Linked DNA regions of Homo sapiens: region 2 is linked to region 1. The links come from fine-mapping of genetic effects on gene expression. A gene starts in region 1. The other region holds a variant in brackets. All regions are shown on one strand. Distances are from middle to middle. Region 1 holds the start of BAALC (BAALC binder of MAP3K1 and KLF4). Region 2 overlaps BAALC (BAALC binder of MAP3K1 and KLF4).

Region 1 (8,334 bases):
AATTTAATTTCCTTCTGTAACAGAGGGACAGACTTTGGTGACACAGGAAAGCAATGGATATCACATACCTTGGCTTCAGCTAGCTTTTAAATTCTAGCCTACGTAACAGTCAAATCTAAAAAATTAATTCAATTCCATTGAGTAGTGGAGATGATCTCCAAAAACAGGAACCACAGGCTCAGGATCATTTTTTGAGTAAGAAGATGCAAGAAACCTTCTTCTTTGTGGAACTGGGAGAAAAACATGCCCCCTCCCTGCAGTGAAATTCAGAATTCATTCAACAAATATTTGCTGAACACCTGTCATGTGACACACCCTCAATCTGGATTGGGCTAAGAGAAACACAAGTGAGATTTAAAAGCAGATATGATTAAATGGGACTTTTCTTGGGCAGACATGTTTGTGGAGTTGAGGTTGTGGGTTCAGGGAGGCTACAGAAGAAATGGAATCGTTGGGTTGGGCCAGGTGTTTGAATGGAGTAGGGTAAAGTTGGGGAGAACTTTTTAAAGAGAAGTTGTGCGATCAGAAAGGCCGTTGGAAGAATTCAGGCTAAATTGATTCAAGTGGGAAAACCTCAGTAGCAAGTACTGCAAAGAAGAGGCAGAAGGGGCTCTAGGAAGAGCTGACAGGACGGAGGACAGGTTCAGACAGAGCATCCATTCATTCTGAAAACTTTTACAAGTCCCAGATGTGTTCAGCACAGAAGATGCAAAGATGAATTAGCTTCTCCCCTAGCCCTCAAAAGTCCTGAAGTAGCCAGGAGAAAAGGTGGCTTCAGTTTGACACCAAAGGAGAATCACTAAGGTCCCAGAAAGAAGGGATTCTTGGGAGCTGAGGGTAAAGTCTGTGAGTGGTTGAAGGAGTGTTCAGATGGGGATGATTCCCCTGAGAGTCTCATTTGACTCACGTGGCTGACTTCCAGAGACCTTCTCCAGCTCTAGAATTCTAGTAGTGAAGCCATTTTTGTTGATTTCACAGTCTGGACTCTCCTGAATCTACTGGCTCTTTCATTTACTCCTACCCACCTCTCCCATCAGAAAACAACTTCTGTAAACAGGAAAAAGTGGCATTCTGGCCTCCTATCACAACGCAGCCACTGGGGGCTGTTAGGTGTCCCCCAGCAGCTTGGGAGTAAAATCATGAGTAAAGCACTGGCAGGGGGTGGGTGAGGTGGAAGTGAGGGGGCAGAGAAGATGAAAGGAATACAGAATCCTGGCCAGTCTCCCAGGGTGGCTGAAACCCAGGAGATCTGTAGCTTTCACGGATGACCCATTCTGACTAAAGATGACCAGCTCCCAGTCTGAAAAACCCACAGAAGTCAAGCCATTCCCAAAGGCCCTAGGGAATGCCAGTACACCCCCAAAGAAGGCCTTGATTTAATCTTGGTCTTCAGAAATATCCCTCTCCCCTGAGGCTAACAGAAATTCCCAGGGAATTAAAATGACCCTGCCCATACAAGCGTCTTGCCAATTTCAGGGTGCTGTCCTGGGGCTGAAGTGGAGCTTCTCCTCTGGAGGATGCAGGCCTTCAGGACCACCTCTCTGGCAGGGCTGGCCCATGTTTGGCAGGGTACCATGAATGAGTGTGTCTGTCCCAGGCCCCACCTGTTGCAGTGACCAGATCTCATGATGGATGGGATATGAATTAGTATGGCAGAGTAATAAATCAAGGAGTGTCAGGAAAGTTGTGAGGAACATGTATGTACATATAGAGCCATCCCATAATAACTCTTTCATACCCATACATATGCATATACGCACATACACACACACACCATATACTCCCAGTCACCACGGCAACCATTTCTTAAAGCTGTACTTACGGGGTTTTGGTTGTTTTTTATTATTATTTTTTTCATGCTAGATCTTTTCACCCTTATTTCTTCGGAGTACATCTCTGGCCTTTGACTCTCTGCTGAGAAGTACCATACCTCCTTGGGAAACCCTGTCACATCTAACATTTACCAGGTCCCTCTAAAAGGCTCATATCTATCCTCATGCTGACACTGAATTCAGCCAACACACCATTTGGTGACTTGCTAAAAGCATTGGCAATACAAAATAACCATTCTGATTGCCACTGTGAGTCAGAAAAACTGGAGACAAATATAGTGTAATGTATTGTACAGCTTTCACAGACAGTCCTCAATTTTAAAATAAAACCAAGTCACAAAGTTAATGTGGAAAAGGAGCCAGCTTTGGTCCTTAAAAATGGAGAAACCTATTCTTGATTAAAGTGACAGCTCTATTTAGTAGGCATGGATTTAAGATTCTTAACCTTGTAAAAGTAATTCGCATTTCCTTCCTCTTCCATATGTTATACATTATGCTTCAAATTAACCCTATTTTCCATTTTAGATTTCATTATTCAAAAATGCCAATAATATCAGTGGGTGAAGAAACACTTAAAACATTTTTATCCAAATATTGACCTTGCTTTGGACAACATCCATGTAATAAGTAGTGAGATTTTTTCCTTTTAATGTCACCAATATGTTTATGATTAAAGGTCAGTCTGTGGCAACAGTTTGCATCTCTGCGCTATAATTACTTGTTCTGCTAAAAAATAAAAAAATAAAATAAAATAAAATCCTGACTTATGACCTGACCAGACAATTCTTTGCATCTCCTTTTATCAGATTTCTGCTGGATGAGGAATGACCTAGGCAAGAGTATTTAATTTATAGTCAAAATCCACATGTGTGCCCTGCCTCCTGCAAAGCATTGGGACACCATAGGGTAGGGAGAGAAGTCCTTTGCTATGGAACAACTGCTCCAAAAGTAACCTAAAGTGCAGAACTAGCGATGGGGCGGGGTGCATTTATTTTGACCTAAACTGGGATTCTGGTCTTTGAAGCCCGCGAGTGGGCTCATTTCCTAGAGGGAGAAAAGGGGAAGCGACAAGAAAGACTCCACCCAGGCGATCCCAGGCAGGCGCCTTGTGTATAAATCCAGGGAGAGAGGGGCACCAGGTGGCCAATGGATGAGAAGTCACCCGGCTGGGTACGCAGGTGGCCAGGGGATGGCAGATGGGCCAAAGCGGGGCGGAGGCGGCCCTGGGCGGATCAGGGGGTGGGTGGCTGAGGGATATGTGTGCGGAGGAGGTGGGCTGTCCTCCCACCCACCGGTCTCCCGACCAGCGAGCAAGCTTTGGACAAGGCCAAAGAGCATTGGGCTGCTGGAAGCTGGGGCATCGGCGCAGCCTTCGGTAAGGGGCTCTGGTCGACCCCACTCCCTGGGCTTGCATCTGTCCACTGATCAGTGGGCAGGTCCTGCCTCTGCTTCCTCCCAGCCACCCCCGCCGCGCCATCAATTCCTCAGGGAACCGGCTCCTCTCTCAGTGCCCGGGCCAAGGCGCCCGGGGTAGCGGGCGGGCGAGGGTCTGCAGGGGCCCGGCCACTTACCCGAGTGCAGGCCGCCCGCTTCGGGGCCGCTGTCCGGGGCGGCGGCGCTGGGCGGCGCGTCCGAGTCGGTGTAGGTGAGCCAGGTGGATTCTGTCTCCCGGGTCCAGCTCTCGTAGTAGCGGGGCTCGATGGCATCCGCCCGGCTCCCGCCGCAGCCCATCCTCCTGCGCCGCGGGAGCGCCCAGCGGCTGCTCGGCTGTCGGCTCTGGCGGCGGCTCAGCCCCGGAGGCGCAGCCCCGGCCCGCAAGGAGGCGGCGGCGGCGACATCGCGTCCCCGCTCCCGCCCGCGCTGCAGCCGCGCGGAGCTCCTGCGGTGCCCGCCGCCCCTAGTCCGGGCCCTCTCCCAGCCCGTCCCTCCTCTCCGCCTCCAAGGCCCTCCCTCCCCTCCGGTCCCCACCGCCCAGTCCTCCCTCCCAGCGCCCTGGCCGCCCCAAGGCCCCCGCTCGCCCGCCCCCTCCCTCAGGGCTCCGTGACGGCCCGGGAGCAGGAGCAGCGGCCCCGCAGCCGGAGGAGGGCTGGGGCTCCCGAGGCGCTCGGACCCGTCTGGCCGGCATTACCGTTCCCAGTCTCTGGCCCATCTATCCATCCATCCATCCATCCATCCATCCATCCGCTCACCCGCTCATTCATTCATCCATCCATCCATCCTTCCTTCCTTCTTTCCATCCATCCTGGAAAGAACTGAAACTCTTATCACGGGACCCCAGGCTTTCTGGCCACCTGTTACAAAAGCAATGGAACTGGGAGCAACCCCGCAAAACTGGTCAGGGAGTATTGCCACTAAGACTTAAGGAACAGTCAGAGCCTATGCCTGTCGTATCTGATTTGGGGAGGCAGGAGTAGGGCTATGATTTTTAAGAGAGTTAGGCTAGGCAGTGTCACTTACACCCCTTCCAGCTGTGGTACTTCATGATCCTCTGAACTTTAAACTCGAGAAAGCAATAGATCACCTGGAACCACGCAGCATCCTGAACCCCCTCTCTGGGCAAGGCTTGGAGGCATGGCCGGTCCCTTCAAGCCCAGGGTGGCCTTGACATTCCCGGGATCCAGTTGTCAGCCTTTCTTTTCTCGGTGCACCCTCAGGTCCATGCGGGTTCAGACCTAGAGCTCAGACTTGCGTAGGCCAATGAATTTACCTGTTCCAAGAATCCAGAACAGGTGGTGAAAGATGAAAATCTTCTTAGCCTTCAAGAGGGGGGTAGGAAAGGGAAGGGTTTGGAAGAATAACTCTTCAATGACCAAGCTCTGCTAGAATATGGTATTAAGTATCATATTCATTCATTCATTCATTCAATGTATATTTACTAAATTCCTATTGTGGCAAAAGACTGTTCTAGTAGACATAATACATATATAATATATTTTGTATATTATCCATTGTATGTAGACTATAGGGTGTGATGTTTAATATAGCATGTAAAGCATAGAGAATATAGTACTCATTATATCCTATATAATTTATAGAATGTACGAGAGTACATTGTCTATAACATTTAGCACGTAGCATCCAATAGGTAGGGCAAGTTCAGAGCATTGCCTGGCACAGAGTAGGCCCTCAGTAAATGTCCAGTGAATTAATAATGAAGTATCTTTTTATAGTAATTTGATTCACTTAAATTATTGTAATTTGGGCTAAAGATGATCCAGTTGAGGGTAGAGCTGTCAGACATTCCTCTGGCAGGCACTCACCAGAATCCATAATGTGGAAGGGAGCAAAGATTCATGGAACTGTGGCCAGGGTCTCCTCCTCCTCATGCTGAGCGCAGCACCCGTTCGCACCCCAGGACTCAGGCTGGCCTCCTCTGCAGGCTTTGCTTCTCCTTTTGAGATGGCCTTGACAGGACTCTTCAACCTTGTTTTAGGTGTAAGGTGGAGGGAGTGCAGTTATCCGGGAAGTGGTGGCTTCCCTAGTCCTTTGGAATTCAGATGCCCTGTGCCTCTTTTCCTTCCCCCCTGAATATTTTGATTTCAGAAGAACCAGCTTTCAGGGAGAGAGAATACTTAACATCTCTAGCAGAGCCTGTGCTTTCCTCAGTTCTACGGCACAGTGCTCCTTTCATAACCAGCCACTTCGTGATGTCACCACCCAAAGAGCAGACAGACCAGAAAGAGTGTCTGAGTTAGACCGTCCTGGGGGAGTTCTAGAAAACGAAAGAAACTGAAAGAGCTAGAGCTTGGTGAGCACAGGAAACAGAGTAAACGTGAGGTGAAGTGGAGGGGTATCCTGGGGCCAAATAGAAACCCACATGCCCATATGTCTAAATTGTAAAAGCTATAAACCAAGTGAGCAAGTTTAATTGAAACATGGGCTGTCCTCATACCTTGACAAGTTATCTTCATAAAAACTTAAAAGGCCAGGTTCTAATGTAGAGTTCTCTCAGTCTTTGGAGTTCTGCACTGAACATGGCAGTGGGATTGTGGGTGGAATTGACCCACCCACTCCTCTTTCTATCCTCAGTTCAGTCCTGCTACACACGGGTCCTTGTGGGCCCATGGGTCTAAGGTCTGTCCATACTCCCCTCCCACAAATAGCTGCCCTTGGCCATCCCTCTGGCTGAGGAGCATGTGCCTGGGGGATGTGGTCTGCCCTCATGGGGTTTGCTTCCAGTACAAGCCCTGGAAGTAGGCTCAGTGGGTTTGGAGAAGAGAGTTGCAAGGTCTCAACTACCCAACAGGGAGGTTAGAAGGGGCTGAGACTCAGGCTCCAGGTACGTGCATTCTGTGATCCCTGGATTCCTTGGCCATAGAGAGGACCAGGGCTGGAGAACCAGAGTGGGACCTCTGGGGCAGGAGCCCAGAGCAGGGACCCCTCTTGCCAGGCCCTGTCTACTTACTTGAATGGAATTATGAACATTTCCAGAATACAGGAGATGGTTATCAAGTACTGCCTGGCTAAGGTTGAGTGTGGTCACTCATTTCACACACATTTCTGATCATCTATTGTGTATAGTTTAAGCTTCTTAAAGACAAAGATATGGTGACATGCTTGGAATCTTCAAAAGGGATTAACTTAATGCCTTCATAGAGTCAGTGCTCATCAAATGTTTGCCTAATGAATGAATAGCAAAAGACAAGGTGGGGATACAGTTAACAGTGCAATTTCAAGAGCCTGACTCTCTGAGTTTAAAGTTTGGCTCTGCTACTTAAGTGGATGGTCTTGGGCAAGCTACTTAACCTCTTTATGCCTCAACTGCATCGTCTGTAAATTGGAATAATAAATTGTGTCAGTATGTGTAAAGGGCCTCAAAGAGTGCCTGGCACATAGAAACACTCCATGAATGTTGCTATCACAACACTTTTGGGGCAACAAGCAACAATGTCATCTCTCTTCCTTAAGAGGGAAATCCCTGAAATTATTATGTCTTTTCACATGAGATAATGTTTGTGAATTTGCTTAGCACACTGCAGAAGTTTGGTAAATAGGTAGGTTTTTTTCTTTTCTTTCCTTTCTTTTTCCTTCCGTTATGATGTTACTGCTAACAACCTTCCTGCAAATAAATTTTTTTACCCCCATTTCTAAGTAATCATCATCGACAGAGCAGTTAGATTTTTTCATGGAATCTCTTTCTTGGCATTACGTAACACCATTGATTCAGAGAAATTCAGAAGCCAGAAAAAGTTAAAGAGCAGCCAATCCAGTCCTTTTATTTTACCAACTAGGAAATCGTAGCTCAGAAAGCTGTAAAATTGCCCAAGGTCACACAGGAAATGTTATCTCTGGCAGAGCTGAAGTTTCAGCCAGAGCTGGGGGCCTGTGGCTGCTGGCTCCGTGCTCTTTTAATTACAGCTCTTTAGTTGGGATTGAATTTTCTCCTAAACCTTCAGGAATAAATGTCATAAATTAAATGTAAATATGTAAAATGTAATACATTATCTTAAACCCTCTGTTCAGAATCTGTAGCTTGACTGGCATGAATTGGTTATCTTTTTCCATCAAGTTTGAAAGCAACAAAAAAAGAATTCTCCTAAGGAGAAATGCTGCAACAGGGCATTGGAAAGCCTGAGCCAAAGCCATCCAGAGCAATGAAATAAATTACACCTGTAAAAACTACTGCAGAGTGGTATTTGCTATATGATGGGATTCTCAAAATAAATTCTCTCTGGCTTTAAGAACCCCTGTGACTGGTACCACCTCTGGCTCATTTCTATGGAAACTGAAGCAAAGGCCTGTAGTGCTTCTCCCTCCAAGGTCTCATTTCTGTGGCTTGGCATCACTGGACTCTACCCGACTATTGTGAGCTGTAGAAAACAGACCTTCAGTAAGGCGGACAATCAGGACAGAACAGAAGGGTTAGCAGGAACCTAAACCTGCCTTTAGAATCAGCCATCTGAAAAGGAGTAAAGATAGATTCACTGCCTTACAAGTTTCCATCTCTTTCCAAGTGAAAAAGTAGCATAATTGAAGAACAACAGTAGCAATAATTCTGGCCAACAGGGTACAGATCCTAGGTAAATCTCTTTGGTCTTGAATGCCAAATCTCAGCAAGTTTCCCCACTGCTACAGATTCAGTGAACATACCAGAACCAGAGCTCCGTGCCCACCCTCTGAAGGATTTTAAAGCAGTTTCCACAGAGCACCCCTCCAGGTCCTCGATCTTGGCTAGTTGACACATCCTCATTGATCCACAAATTGTCATTTAGATGTAAAGGAAGAGGGCTCAAAGTTAGCACCCAAAAGCACAAGATCCAATTTCGTTCCCCACATCTGGAGAAAAAAATCAGAAAATATCATTTGACATGAGCTCATTCTTGCATCTGTTGCCTTGAAGAATGACTGCTTTCCCCAGGGCATGAATGGTACACCTGGAATCCAGGTGATGTGGACAGATCGGGTAAACATCATTACAGAGTATAAACAAGAAAGGAAAGCAAATATTACAACAGCAAGAAGATAAGTGAGTTTTTTATTTGGTTTAAGAGGTTAGAAAAGG
Region 2 (8,334 bases), 77 kb before region 1:
ATAAATCTCTTCAAATATTGTAGAGTTTGACTCTTTTCATCAACACAATCTAGTTACATCTCAAAAACCTTAGATTTCAAGCCCAAGCAAGAGAGAGAAAGAAGATGAGAAAAAGAATCACAATGCCAGATATTTTATCTAGAAGTTTGGAGAAGTGAGTTGTTTTGCCCTCCGCTGAGAAGAGCAATATAAACACAAGAAACAATCACACCATTTTGTCCCTCAGTGCCTGTGATGCTTTATACAACGTATTTTCCCCTCTGATGTAGTTTCCAGCCAGCCAAACCTTTTTTAACATCACCCCCCATACCTTTTTAATGACAGGAAAAGAAAATGTGTTTCTATTGCAATTACTGGCTTAAAAAAAAAAAAGTATGGCCCCCAATTCCATAATGAGAGGAGCCTAATTAGCACCTTTTTCTCATGCAGCTGTGCCAATCCTTCCTCTACTTCTAACATTCTTGTTTTGTGAGTTTTATCACCATTGACTCTTGTTAATGGGCCACCTCTGGCTTCTCACCTAGTTTTACAGCTTTTCAACTCTTTCCTTACCTCATTTTAATTTCTGCAGCTTTAGTACCCCATGAATCATAGATTTTAGTCTTCTTGATACTGCCTCTTTAATTAAAAGTAGCCTGCCATTTCTCAAGGGTAACCAGATTGACCGTGATAACCTCTTGGCAGTCTCTGACCCAGATGGACTTGTTTATCTTGGGGTTCAGATGTCAATAATCAGCCCATTTCCTGTGGAGGTTGGGACAGCTTGGCTGCTCCTGGAGACCTGGATTCAAGACTGCAGATACCTTTGTTCAGCCTTTTCTCACTTTCCCCCCAAATGGAAATAGAGATGTTCTCAGCTTTGCTTGAACTCCACAAATATATCTGTACCTAACATGGGATTATACAAACCTTTTCATAGTTCTTTGCAGACAACAAAGAAAAACATGGCTTCTGAGATTATGATGTGTGAGACACCAATTTTTCTGTATAAGTAGTATTTTTAATTATAAAAGGAAGACATAATTATGGCAAAAAGAAATTCAAAGAGTAGAGAAGGGCTTCTAGTGCCTTCCCCAGAGATAATTATGGCTAATATTTTCTTATGGAATGTTGCAGGGATTTTCTAGGCATATAGAAGCATAGGGCTCTGTTATTCTCTCTCCCTATGTTCTTTACTTCCTTCCTGGCCTTTAACCACAGTTTAAATTATGCATTTATTTTTTAACTTCTTTTTTGCTTCCTCCTCATATTGTAAACTTCAAGACAGTAGGAACCTAGTCTATTTCATTCATTTATAGTATTGCCCAGACTCTAATTTAGTGCCTGTCGCATAATAGACACTCAGTAAATAATTTGACCATGAACACATGTGTGAAGACAAATCTTCAGAAAGAAAAGAAAAGAAAAATCCCTGGGAACAGAAACTGTGTGCATTGCCCTGCCTCAGTGTCCCAGAACTTTCCTACAAGATTTCAGTTACATCCATGATTAATCATTCCTTGCCCCATCCCTGAGAGACAGGTGGGAATGTTATTGTATTCGCTTTCCCAATGAGGCAGCTGAAACCACTCAGGCAAATGCAATTAACTCAAGGCCAATGTCAATATGGGTGATGAGTCAAACTAAAGATGGTGGCCCCAGGTTTCATATCCCACCTCTCACAACTCTGCCAAAGCTCACTCTAAATTCTCCGCCATTAAGTTTCAGATAATGGGAAGGAAGAACTTGGGGCTTAGATGGAGACAGACCTGGGTTTGAATTTGAACACAGCCAAATCATGACTCCTTGGGCCATGTTGACCAGATATCTAGTTTCTGAGCCTCTGTTTTCCCAGGTAGGAAATGATGTTGCTTACCTTTTAGAGTTGTAAGGGTTAAAAATGATGTCATAGTGTGTCTGGCACGTTGTAGGCACGTCAAAATATTAGTTTTATCCTCTCTTCCTTCCCAAAAGATTAAAGACGAGAGCTTTGGCAGCTGCAACTCCAGATGTTTGACTTCTTTTCAGACAGGTCTCATGAAAGGAAGATACACAATAACACACCCTAATTGTTCTCAAATTCTGTGAATGTATTTGCTGCTGCTTTGTGAATTTGTACGGCATTAATGCAAGGTCAGTCAGGGGATATTTGATCTTAGCAACTCCACCAAGGGCCAGCTGCTAGCCTCAGAACGCAGGGGTCAGACTATGCTGCAGGTAAAACTCTTAAGATTCCTCCAAGCCTGGAGCACATTCTGTGCAGACCGCAGCCCCCTTCCCCATCTACACTTAGACTTACTCACCCTGGGAGTTTGTATCGAGTGCCAAAAGGAGTTGTTGCTTTTCAACTTGAACTTCAGATAGAAGATCAGACATTAGGAAGGCAGCAGAACCTGCTTTAGAAAAGCAACTGGGCAACCACAGAACAGTCATCACAGGATAGTGGTGCAGAGCTGGGATGGGTGGGGTTGAAGCTATGGGAACCTTTTCTAATCTGAGTGATGACTAGGCTGTCTCAGTTAATCAACACGTAGGTAGTGAGTACCTGTTAGGTTCATAACCCTAAAGTAGGCTCAGGAGTCAAGGGAAGAATATAAAGAAAAATAAGGCAGTGTCTGCCCTGAGAGCCTTCCAGTTGAACTGGTTTGACTGCAGACCCTTACATGAATACCGAGTCTTACAAATCTCTACAAGAGGTAGCAGCCAGTAGGTAGGTGCACATCTCTGTATTGCTAAATTCCTTCCTTTTTCCCCAGGCTTGCACTAGAAAGGACACCAAAGTGCCCTTCTAATAGCTTCCCCTCTCTGGTTTTCCCAGAGGTTTCTGTTGTTCGCTCCCTCCTTTTAATGTCCTGTTTTTGTTTTTCTGGGAGAGACTCATATTTACTTTCCAAACTCTCCCTTGATATGTCTCATATTAGTGTTATCCAGGAGAAATCCTGGGCTGGTCCTAACCTCCTGTCTTGATCAGGTCTCCTATCTCTGTGGACCTTCACCTGTCTTTCCCAGACTGGGCCAGGCCTTGCCAATGATGTTGACCAGACACTGGGGGAGGGGACAGGAGGAGGAGCGGGAGAAAACTCCTTAGCTGAGAATCAGTCCCCATGCTAGTTCCTTTAGCACGGTCCAGTCACTTTGTCAAGAATAATAAAGCAACTTGAAAATATGCAGCTTCTGAAGACAGGAGGGTTCCCTGGAAGGCCAGCCACATGTCAGAGCCTTTTCTACTTGAGCTATGGCCACATATACATTTTTACTGTAGCTGAATACTTGAGGAGGTATTTTAAGGGGTGGGGGGGAATAAGAGTCCTAAGCCTAAGGAAATGGCACATTCAGGTTAGAGAGTAAATGTTTGGAGGCAGCCCAAAGTTCCTGAACAACTAATTAGTGGGAGAAGACAAGCAACTACAGCGCTGCCTCTCGTGTTGTTTGTTGAGCTCAGGTAGGGAGTAGGATGAAGGAGACCAAGCCAATGATTTATCAGACACTC[TGG/G]AGTCAGTAAGGCCCCAAATGACTGGGGAAATCAAGGTGCAATAGAGAAAGAGAAAGAGCTCCCCACTGAGACAGTCAGTTCCAATTTATGAAAGATCATTTTTGCCACAATCTTCTTGCCAGTTAACACCTATTAACACCAGGCATAAGGCGGGGGGATTGGAGGGAATTGACAAAAAGGAAGATATGGTTTGTTTGATGGGACATGAAGTGGAGAAGGGCTCCAAACACAAGGTGCTGTTGCTCACAGCCATAAGCAACATTAGTTGCCCCATCACCCTTTGGAAAGCAGTTTAAACGTGAGGTGGCATCTGCATTAAATAGAGTAGCTGCTACCCCTGACTAGTGACCTTCTACTTCCTTCATAGCACCATTCAGAGTCTATAAATGCTTTATTTATTCTATATTATTTGGCTCCCAACCCACCTCCATTAAAACTAGCAGCTGCTTCAGAGCAAAAGCCATGTCTGTCTTTTCTACCCCTGGATCCTTGGCACTGGAACAGTGCCTGGCACCTAGACAGCACTCAATGAACATTTGATGAATGAATCTTAAGAGTAGTTATAGGAACTGATTAAAAAATTTTCCAGGCCTCGCAAGGATTGCCTTTCACATACAAATTTGTTTTGTAAATCTGAATGGCAGCACTGCAGTAGGCCTGTGGATGAGGACACATGCTTCATGAAAGGGATCTTCTAGAGAAGGAAAGCTTTAAAAAAAAATGCCGAAGAACCACCAACCAGGTGGCCTGATGGTGCCTAAGGGGAGCGTGGTGAAATGCTAGTAGCTCATATAGGGGTGCAATGGAAGACTGGAAGAGGCAAGTGGATACTGACTGAGCCAGATACTGAAAATGCACAAAGCTTAGGCCCAGAGTCTAAGAGACACACTAGGAAAAAAACAGTATATCAAAGGCCCAGGAGGGAATAGGAAGAAAAGTATTTTCTTTGGGCAAATAGTAGGCAGTTGAGAGCCTGCCTGAGTGTTGGTATGAGGTAGCTCTGCTGACAGAAGCATCAATCACAGGTAAACTTAGCTTCTAAACATCTTAGACAGAAAACCTTTGCGTTGGCCTTTGAGGGACTCAGAATGGCCAGTGACTGGTGAGGTCGCAGGATGTAAAGACCACTGATTATCTTTTAAATATAAACCGTTAAAACTAAAGTTATCAGCTCCCTGATCTTATTTTGAAAACAGTTACAACACAGCCATGTTCATTTAATTATGAAAACAAAAGCTGCACAGGCTGCTCATTGATATGCATCATCTGCCCAGGGGTGCTGCGTTGGGCAGGTGTGTGTGGTCATCACTCCTCTGTGACAGTTTCCACTGCTGCTGAAGCCCTACGGGGGCTGACTCTGCCCGCCCCATTTTAAAGCCCCATGAGCTCCCAAAGTGTGTGGGGTGTGTGTGTATGTGCGGCATGGGGGCATGCTTTCCCTAGCTATATCTGAGTCTCAATTCCCATCTGTAAATTGGAGACAACAATGTCAACATTATAGAGTTAGTGTGAGGATTAAGAGATAACATAACAAAGTGCTTTGCACCCTATGTCATACCTAGACCACATATGAATAAATACTTGGTAGTGGCCGGGTGCAATGGCTCACGCCTATAATCCTAGCACTTTGGTAGGGTGAGGCAGAAGGATTGCTTGAGCTCAGGAGTTTGAGACCAGCCTGGGCAACATAGTGAGATCTCCTCTCTGCAAATAATTAACAAATTGGCTGGGCATGGTGGTGCATGCCTATGGTCCCAGTTAGTTGGGAGGCTGTGCTTGAGCCCAGGCATTAGAGGCTGCAGAGGGCAGTGACCGAACCACTGCACTCCAGCCTGGGTGATAGAGTGAGACCCCATCTATAAATAAATAGATAAATACATAAATTAATTAATTAATTAATAAGTAGTTGCTACCACAAGGAAGACAGACTAAGCACAACTTACTGATTTTTAATTCTTTTGTTCCATAACTGGAACTCAACCACTGCTAGTTAGAGTATAAAGCAGCATAACCACTTTGGAAAACTATTTGTCAATGTCTATGAAAGTCAAATATACCCCTGTCCTGTGACCCAACAATTCCACTCCTAGGTATATTCCCAAAAGAAGTGCTGTCCACCAAACCATGCACACAAACATTAAAAGCTGTATTGTTCACAATAGCCCCAAACTGGAAACAACCCAAATGTTTATCAAGTAAAATGGGTAAATTGCAGTGTATTCATATAAGGAAATATACATAACGATGAAAATGAGAAAATTATTGCAACTCAGAACAATATGGGTGATTTTCACAAGGATAATGTTGAGCAAAAGAAGCCAGACATGAAAAAGCTCACACTTGTATGATTCTATTTATAAGTCTCAAACCAAACTGATCTATAATACTAGGAGTGAGAAGAATGGTGACATTGTGGATTTCTGGGCTGGTGATAATGTTCTATGTCTTCATCTGCATGATGGTTACATGGATGTGCCACCTTATAAGAATTCATTGAAGTTATGAGTTGCATTTCTTTGTGTATGTATGTGGTATGTGGTAGCCTGCATTATTGCTCCTAATTCTTTGCTCTCTCTCCACTTTGGACGGAGTATGTTTCCCTGCTTAAAGTTGGGCTTGTCCATTTGACTTGCTTTGGCCAATGGGATATTAGTCAGTATGATGTGAGCAGAGACACGAAATGCGTTCAAGTAGTTTGGTTTTGCCCCCTTGGGTTTCTGCCATAGTCATAAGAATATACCCCAGAAAGCTGCTGCTTTCTTGGCCTGGTTTCCAGAATAATATATATGGAACAGACTGAGCCAGCCCTGGAAAAGTCAGACTGAGCCTTTTTAAGTTACAGCTGACCATGGTGGCAGTGGTGGGGGTGGCGGGAGGGTGTTGTCTCAAGCAACTGAATGTTGCTGTGTTTTGTTATGCAGCATTATTGAGGCAACAACTGACTAATACACTATTCATTTTTAAAATGTACTTGAAGCTATGTTCTATCTTCTTAATAGAAACCTTTTCTGATTTAAAGCTACCAATATCCTTCTACAACACTTATATGGCCTTATTCATGTAACTCAATCAAATGAACCTCAGTTTCCTTGTCTATAAAATGGGGATAATGCTTACTTCACAATGCTCTTAGGGGAACTTAAGGAGCCAGTAGACTTAAAAGCACTTTGTAAACTGCAAAACATAATTTTAAAGTGATGGATGGGGGGGCAGGAAATGAGGTGGGGAAACAAGTGTATGGATCATGCCATCCACCAGGCAAAGCTGCTTCCTCTTGACCACGGCTTATCCTGGCTCAGAGGGTAAGGGCACAAGTGTGGGAAGGAGACTAGAAGACAAATATCTGGGCCTGTGGTAGAGCAGTCATCAAGCTTTTGAACGTAGTTCTGTGGGTCCAGACTGTCTTGAGAGATGGCAATGATGATTAGGTCTCTAGAAGGCCACCTAATGCACAGGCAAAGTAGACAATACAGAACTCTATTAAGGACACCACAACCCTGAAGTCTACACCCCTCATTACCTTCTCCAGTGTCTGCAGGGCCACCATTAGTGTTTCATTTAAGTGGATTATGGTGCTGTGTGCCTAACTATCCCCTGTTAATCCTTACTGCCATTCTTATCTATATCCTAGTTTATAAGAGGAGGCTCATCTGTTCACTCATTTTGTATTATTTCCATTGTGTGGATAATGAACGTGAGATTCTGAGAGATTAAGTCATTTCTGAAAGGCCTTTAGTTAGTGAGCTTTAGAGATGAATTTGCAACAGGTTTTCTGACCAAAACTTAGAGAGGCAACTCACTGATATGAGCAAGAATTCCATCATTAGATAATGAGTTGTACTCTCAGAAAACAGGTGGCATTGGCCCGAGGGGACAGGACCAGTAAGTTTTTGGAACTGGGGACTAACCTGATTAAGCCTATCAAACTTAACCTGCATTGCTTGCTTTTAATCACTCACTTCTAGTTAATCTTAAAACCCATATAGCTGAAAGTCCCATAGCTAACCAATCCACTAGCTTTGTTACAGACTACATATCTGACATATAGATCACCACTGTAACAGTTGCTTAAAGTTGTTTTTCAGGAACTTGGGCTTAGCTCTTGTCCAGTTAAAGCCAGTTGAGATCACTGACCCTTCAACTGGGTTTGTAGAAATGCCCAAGAGGTGACCTTTTGAAGTCAGAAGGCCAAAACTCTTCCTGAAGATCATGCAAACACAGCCATTTTCTGAACATGAATCCTGTGAAGAGCCATGAACCATGACTATGCAAGCACAGACCACTGATTATCTCACTTTCCCCCACTGCCAATCATCTTTCCTCATGCCTTAGATTACCCGGCTTCTTTATCTCATAGATAGCCCTAAACCCTATCTTTGTGGAGGCAGATTTGGGATCTGTTCTTCTGCCTCCTCACTTGGCTGCCTCATGAATAAACTTTCTCTTTTGCAAAACCCATTGTCACAGTGATTGGTTTGCTGTGCACAGACAGAATGAACCTGGTTCAGTATAATTTTGACAGAAGAGATAGGAGAAAATGGGTATGGAGCCTAGGGTAAGCAGTGGATTTTGAAGGGGGTGGGGCATAGGGAAGATAAGGAAGTCAGAAGGAGGAACTGGGTGGAAGAGGAAGAGACTGCAGATGCCTGAGCCCTGCCTACTAAGAGCGCTCATTCTGGGCTGCCCCTCCTGTACCCATAAGAGGATCTTCCCAACAATAGCTCTGGGAGAAAAGAAAGGATACCCGCCACGTCCTGGGACATCACTGACCTGCCTCTTCCAACAGTCTGGGGATGATGCTGTCACCACATTCTGCTATGAGAGCCACCCTTGGGGGCCCTTCCAATGTCCACCTGGTTGGA

The links. PIP is the estimated chance that this variant, and not a neighbour inherited with it, causes the effect. A credible set is the group of variants that fine-mapping cannot tell apart.
Region 2: its variant is the best candidate, but not a certain one, in a credible set for the expression of BAALC in nasal epithelium (TOPMed, PIP 0.50).

What each region holds. Positions count from the first base shown.
Region 1 is chr8:103,136,127-103,144,460 of GRCh38, reverse strand. BAALC (BAALC binder of MAP3K1 and KLF4) reads right to left here and starts at 3,736. Exons shown (of 3, transcript NM_024812.3): 1 at 3,404-3,736. The coding sequence starts at 3,563. LINC01181 (long intergenic non-protein coding RNA 1181) reads right to left here. Exons shown (of 6, transcript NR_145429.1): 4 at 7,923-8,108; 5 at 5,093-5,255; 6 at 4,106-4,588. BAALC-AS2 (BAALC antisense RNA 2) reads left to right here and starts at 3,119. Exons shown (of 2, transcript NR_027071.1): 1 at 3,119-3,207. RefSeq lists a silencer at 3,511-3,700.
Region 2 is chr8:103,213,503-103,221,836 of GRCh38, reverse strand. All of the region lies in intron 2 of BAALC (BAALC binder of MAP3K1 and KLF4), which reads right to left. Among named protein-coding and RNA genes, the nearest start is that of BAALC-AS1, 46 kb to the right of the region's middle. The variant TGG/G (reference allele first, on the strand shown) is at 3,470.